Linked DNA regions of Homo sapiens: region 1 is reported to be linked to region 2. Evidence: microRNA targets listed by miRTarBase, many of them from high-throughput screens and not tested one by one. Region 2 holds a microRNA gene; the other region holds the end of a gene's coding sequence.
Evidence for each region. The annotated mature microRNA hsa-miR-4758-5p reads GUGAGUGGGAGCCGGUGGGGCUG and lies in region 2 at 1,892-1,914, opposite strand. An mRNA with a match to its seed (bases 2 to 7 or 8) in the 3' UTR can be bound and repressed. Matches are read on the target gene's strand: a 7mer-m8 pairs with bases 2 to 8, a 7mer-A1 pairs with bases 2 to 7 and ends in A, and an 8mer does both.

Region 1: the mRNA of TSPAN14 is a reported target of hsa-miR-4758-5p. The part of its 3' UTR that is shown has no 7-base or 8-base seed match.

Annotation. Positions count from the first base shown.
Region 1 is chr10:80,517,531-80,521,042 of GRCh38, reverse strand. It overlaps TSPAN14 (tetraspanin 14), which reads right to left. Exons shown (of 9, transcript NM_030927.4): 9 at 1-3,138. The coding sequence ends at 3,067. Among named protein-coding and RNA genes, the nearest start is that of TSPAN14-AS1, 17 kb to the left of the region's middle.
Region 2 is chr20:62,330,643-62,333,642 of GRCh38, forward strand. MIR4758 (microRNA 4758) reads right to left here and starts at 1,915; the gene lies at 1,845-1,915. It overlaps LAMA5 (laminin subunit alpha 5), which reads right to left. Exons shown (of 80, transcript NM_005560.6): 24 at 2,922-3,000; 25 at 2,733-2,839; 26 at 2,448-2,601; 27 at 1,915-2,075; 28 at 1,730-1,838; 29 at 390-487; 30 at 101-302.

The DNA.
Region 1 (3,512 bases), not on the chromosome of region 2:
ATGGGGAAACCCAGTGCCAGGCTTCTTGTGGACCATGCAGATGGTTTTTCAGCCCAGCCCACAGCCCTGCCCTGTGGGTAGTGGGATTCCCCGGAGGCTGGTGAGGACAGCTGCAGCAGAGTCCTAAGCAGACATATGGGAGAGGTCAGAGAACTGGCGAGCCTGGGCCTCTGAAGCAGAGAAGCAGAGGACATTCAGGAGGTGCAGTGTCTGGTGCTACAGAGGCTGAAGAAGGCCAGAGTTGACAATTGGGATAAGCAGCTTTCAGCTACGTGGGGCATGGTGGGTGGTGCAAAGGAAGGGGTACAGACAGCCCAGATAAGAAGCTGCCTGGGAAAGAAAGGGAGGGAGCCATAGGGCCTCGGCAAGTTTTTAGGATGGGAAAGGAAGGCCAGCGATAGGAAGACGGGACAGGAAAAATAACGTTGACAAGATCCTGAGAGGGGGTGGACCAGGGTTGAGGAGGGGGTACAGGAAAGACCCCAAGGCTTTAAAGTTAGCATGTGCATGGTGAGGTGAGAAGAGGGTGCAAATGCCACAGCTGGCCTCCAACCAGGGAAGGCGGGGATTCAGGACAGGCCAGTGCTAGGTGGGGAGTGCACAGGAGGCCTGCCCTGTGCCTCTGTGCGGACAGCCGATGCTGGGCGGAGACTGCCACGTGACCGGCTCTCATCCTTGCTTTCTTTCCATTCCTCATCCAACTATTCAGAGTCACATGATATGGCTGAGAACAGCCAGAAGGGTCTATAGTTGAAAGATAAACCCAACTCTGCAAAAATCGCACCGAGACTTCATCCTAAACCAGGTCTACAGGAATAGATGGGTCAGGCCTGCAGGAGCCTTCCAGGAGCTCTGGCAGGGAGGGTCTGTGGCCACCCACTCCCCCAGGGGAGGCTGGGTCAGAGGCATCTAGTGAGGTGGGCACTGCCACCAACCCCCTTCACAGAAAGGCCGGCACACCCAGGACACACAGCTCATGCAGCAGCAGTGCCCAGGCTTCAATCCCATGTCCCCACTTCGACTCAGTGTCCCCAAGCTCTTCTGCTTGGATCAATAAATAGTATCGCACAGGGGTGGACAGAAATAACCTAAAACAATGTTTCCTCTAGACCTATGGAGTTGAAGTTTCTCCAGCTCTCACTTATAGCGGGGGATAAACCACAAGCCAACTTGTGCGGCTGTGGCCGGCACACAAGGGCAACTGAAAGTGCTGCCATACAGAATCTTAAAAAAAAAAAAAATTACTCAATGAAATGTAAGTCAGATTGTGCTGATGATGGACTGCCTTTACCATCCATCCTTCTGTAAGGTCTACATACCCTATCCCTTGGTTCCTCTGGCAGCCGCGTTTACCACTGAGATGCTTAGCAATATCTCAATAGTGACCCCAAACAAAAATGACCAAAACAGCATTAATATAAAGATATATTCCATAAAAGAGTTTGGCAGTCAAAGAGAAGCATCACACTTCCGAAAAACACAAGCATTCTTCTCCTAGTCTACAGAGAATTGTGTAAAAAAAAAAAAATCATCATCAACAGCCACCAGTATACACCACACTAGAATGTACACTCCGGCAAGTAAATTAAGGTTGCAGTCCATCCCTGAACGATGAGAAGTGGTCTGAGCTATGGCAAAGTGTTAGAAAGTAGCCCAGCTAGACAAATGCCCCAGCTATCCCCAGGGGAGTTATTCAGTACTTAAGACTTCATTTCCAAGAGCAGCCCCAGAAAAGCCCTGACAGGAAGGGTGGACCAGTGATCACCGATATCCCATTAGGGGCGGTCACCAGAAACAAAATGCCTGGAGCTTCTGAGCAGCTGCAGCCTGGGGTTGTGGCTAGGCACGGGGTGTGGTTGCAGAAGAACGGCTGTCTCCGGGGAGAGGCAAATGGCAGGCCAGCCAGCCCTGGGTACATGGCCACAAGAGGAGCCCTGGCCAACAGTTTCAGGCTGGCCATCTTGGGCTGGGGCTCCCTGGGCTTGCAGTGGGGAGGGTCAGGATTCAAATTCTGGGTGACAATTTCAGTAGCACCAAGACCAGAAGACAGTGAGGCCACGCTGGGGAGTGGGGGAGTGCTTGTATGTGGGATGCATGGAGGGAGGCTGCAGTATGTGGAGGAGAAAGAGAGGCTGTTGTGGGCTGGTTCTTAAGACACTCAAGGGGACTCAAAGGGTCGGCTCCAGCCATGGACACTATCTAAGGCTGCTCAGAGGAGAATGCTGGAGGAGAGGAAGAGGAAGTGAAATGGTGTGAGAACATTCTTACCCCTATAAATAAACTATTTACACACTTTAAGAAAAGGAGAGCCGGCTCTCAGTGAAGAACCATGCCCACCGCGCCACCGGCGCCATCAGGGCTTAATGCTATCAAGACCAGAGGCAGTTCCGGCGCCAGGAGAATAGCTGGTGGACACAGGGGGACAGTGGACAAGGCACTCCCGTGGCACCAGTCCACGCACTGGCTCAGGCTTACTTCACTTGAACATGGCTGAGGATCCTGCAAACAACCCCTGATATGTGCATGTCCCAGCAGACTGCGCTGGCACTCAGAGGCCCAGCGGGGCCACGTCCGCCTCCCGTTACGGGCAGGCCCCCATGCTGCTTTGCTTGATGGAGAGAGATGCCCTGTCCACGCCTGTGGGTCCCTCTACCCACGGCCCACCCACAGATGTGGATGACCCAAAGCAGATGTCTGGATGCCAGTGGAGAGGGGACCAGGGTGTCCTGCAGACATGCTTGAGCTGCAGGGGGTCTGAGTCAAGCCCTCCTGGCAGCCACAGGAGCCCTCTCTGTCTTTCAGAGTCACCACTCCCACATAAAGACACATTCTCTGTCTCTGGGTAGACTCCAGAGGGATGCAGTCACAAGTTTGGGCAGGTAACAAGGGGGACCCTTGGTCTTCAGCACCAGCAAGCAGAAACAGAGAGGTCACGTCACGCTGATGCTTAAGATGGGGCACTGGCTCTGGGGGTGTCGGCTCCTCTCCCTCTGGACGTAGGGCTGATGGCAGAGAAAGGCTCTGGCCTCCCAGCGTGGCTCAGCTCGGCTCCCTCAACTCTGCTCCTCAGAAGTGATGGCCGGCCTTCACTGCCTCGATGTCTGAGATCAGCGTCCTTGCCAGGAAGATGCCAAATATCTGAAACCAACACCAGCAGAGTCAGCGGCCATTGCTGGGGCCCAAAGGCAGAGGGCAGGGAGCGGAGGGTGGGGTTGGGAGCTCCCACTGCACGCCTCTCCTCACCCCCCAGCTGCGACTGAAGACGTAGAGACAGCACCGCAGAGCGAGTGGCACAGCACAGCCACCCCTCCCGCAAAAAAGGGGTCCTGGGGTCTAGTCTGTTACATTCCCAAAGCCTAGAAGAGGCAAACCACAGGCACCACAAGCAAAACAGACACTCTGTCCTGCCTCCAACATGATTAAGTATGTCACAAGCCATGGGGCAGGACACGCCTGTCCCTGGGTTAAACCAAAAATAACAGGGTCACGCTGACTGGTTCTCATTCCCAAAA
Region 2 (3,000 bases):
TGAGCTATGAGCCCCTGCTGCCCCCTGGACAACCTGCCCTGGGTTGGGACCCGGAGTCCTGCCCTGACACCCCCGTCCCTCTAGAGACTATGGCCCTCACCTGGGGCTCACGCAGCAGGGTGGGCTCTGCATCAGGGTCCACAGCGGTGGGGGGCCGAGGTCGGGGTCCAGCTGGGGACATGGCTGGAGTGAGATCCTGCGCGTGGGTCAGCGGGAGGCCGGGCGGCAGCGGGATCACCTGGCAGTCCCTGAGGATGATGGGCTGGGGCGGCTTTGGGAAGCGCGAGGGCAGACAGGCGGCACTGGTGAGAGCACAGTGGGTGAGTCAGAGCCGGCCCTGCCGCCGGGCCCTCGGCCGCGCCCCTCCCAGCCCCATTACCTGCCATTACCTGTTGGGGCCAAAGGCGCCGTGGCTGCTGATGCAGCTGACCCGGGGCTCCACGAACTCCGGGCTGAACTCCTCAATGGGCACCAGAGTGACCCCGTGCTGCAGGCAGAGGGACGAGATGCTGCAACGCCCGTGGTGCGGGGAGGATAGGGGGTGCAGGCGGTACGATGGGGGGGTGCAGGCGGTACGATGGGGGGGTGCAGGCGGTACGATGGGGAGTGCAGGCGGTACGATGGGGGGGGTGCAGGCGGTACGATGGGGGGGTGTAGGCGGTACGATGGGGGGTGCAGGCGGTACGATGGGGGGGCCGGTCACACAGCTCAGACCCAGGAAACTGCAAACCCAGGCGTCCGACCGAGCCCTGCTCTTTCCAAGATGCCCTTGCTCCTCCTCCAGCTGCACAAACCCCAACCGCAGACCAGCGTGTTGGCCAGTTCCTGGGCCCACAGGCCTATGCGGCTCCTCCCATAGCCCTCTTCCTCCCCCTCGCCCTCCCATCCGTCACTGTTCCCCCACTCTTATCTCGAGTGCTGCTTGGTGCCACCAGGCCGGGCCAGGCCCAGCTCTCCCAGGACCTGACCCAGGCAGGCACTCAGCAGGCACAAGCCGCAAATGGGTGCTCCCTTTCCGTGCGGCCATGTGAGGTTGGTGTCTCGGAACACGGCAACTTATCCGCTGACACAACGGTGGGAGACGCGGCTGCACAGAACATGTTGTGTGGCATTTATAGAAAGTGCCAGGCCAGGTATGGTGGCTCCTGTCTGTAATCCCAGCATTTTGGGAGGCCCAAGAGGGCGGATCACCTGAGGTCAGGAGTTTGAGAATAGCCTGGCCAATATGGTGAAACCCTGTCTCTCCTAAAAATACGAAAATTAGCCAGGCGTGGTGGTGAGTGCCTATAGTCTCAGGTACTTGGGAGACTGAGGCACGAGAATCGCTTGAACCCAGGAGGTGGAGGTTGCAGTGAGCCAAGATCTTGCCATTGCGCTCCAGCCTGGGCGACAGAGTGAGACTCCATTTCAAAAAAAAAAAAAAAGAAAAGAAAGTTCCAGAACAGGCAACCAACGCTGTCTGTGCCAGGAGGTGGCTGCCCTGGGGCCAGGGAGCTGTGACTGCAGGTGCTTTCCTGAGCACATGGAACAGCTCGGGGGTACGTCAAAAGGGACTGAATCCACAAAACGCTTGCAGGAGGGGTTCCAGAAGAAACATGCTGGGCTGGGCATGAGCGAGTGTGGCCGCCTTGGGGACCTGGGACCCCAACTGTCCTCTCCCCTCTCATGCATGTTTCAAATCTTCTGAAAGAAGCTGACCCCTTGGGGTGGGGACCTGAGGGGTCCTTACCAGGAAGAAGCGTGCCTGTTCGGCTGTGAGCCTCACGCTGGCCTCCGAGTCCAGGTGGAAGACAGCCAGGTGGTCCTGGGTATCCCGGGCAGTGCCCCGGCACAGGGTGCTGTGGGGGGAGGGTGGTCAGCAGGTGGGGCAGCCCCGGGCGTGCCCTTACTCCAGCCCCACCGGCTCCCACTCACCTGTACAGGCAGGGGTGCAGGGAGAGCAGCCCCTGCTGGGGGGCCCGCTGTGGGGTGTGCACGGCCACGCCCACCTCCTGGCGGGCATCCTCATTGGCGTACTCCACCACTAGGGCATAGCGGCCTGGCTGTGGCACTGCCACTTGAAGCTGGACGTCCACCTGCAGGGAAGGCAGGGTGACGGGAGGCCCGCCACCCCTCGCCCTTCCCACCTCCCTCCCCTCCCACTCCAGCGCCTCCCTGACCCCAGGGCCTGCCCTTCAGCCGAGTCCCACCCTGGCCCGGACATCTCCAGGCAAGTGGTGGGGGCTGAGCTGTATGTGGAGGCCACAGCCAATCCTACATACAGACAGGCACTGAGGTCACACATGCAGGAGGCAGGAGGCAGGAGGCAGGGGCGCCCTGCCTGGGTGCTGGGCTCCATTGCCTGAGGCAGCGCCCTGCTCCTATAACCTGCCACCGCCACAGGACCCCCAGCCCCCAGGCCAAGGTCCTGCAACACCCATTGCTCCGTGGGGTCCCAGGACACGCACATCACTGCCCGTGCAGGTGATCAGTGGCGGGTGCGACGGGCTGAGCTGCTCCGTGGGGCAGGGCCGGGGCAGGCTGTTGTCCTGGCGACACAGGGCCTCCAGCCCGGCGGCCGAGGGGAAGCCATCCAGGGGGAGGTGTGTGTAGAGGAGGCAGCTGGGGGGACACAGGCCGTGGTCAGCCCCAGGTCCACCCAGGTCCCCAGAGACAGCCTGAGTGGGGGAAGCCAGGCACAGTGGGGGTCCAGGAAGCCCCCACCCCGGTCCCACCGCACGCATGGCCCTCACTTGTCGCCAGACTGCTGGGCAGAGGGACGGTATGTGCAGGCCTCAGTCACCCGCAGCTGCAGGAGCGCCGCCTCGTAGTATGCGCTAGGCAGCAGAACCACGTAGTCCTGCAGGGTGGAGGTGGTGCTGAGAGTGGTGGGCCCCACCCCCTGACCCGGCCCCCAGCCCTCACTCTGGCCCCTGCCTCACCAGGAGCACCCCTTCGGCCTCCACACGCAGGGCCCAGGTGCCAGGGTTCAGCACAAAGGGCTCTCCGAAGCCCCTCTGG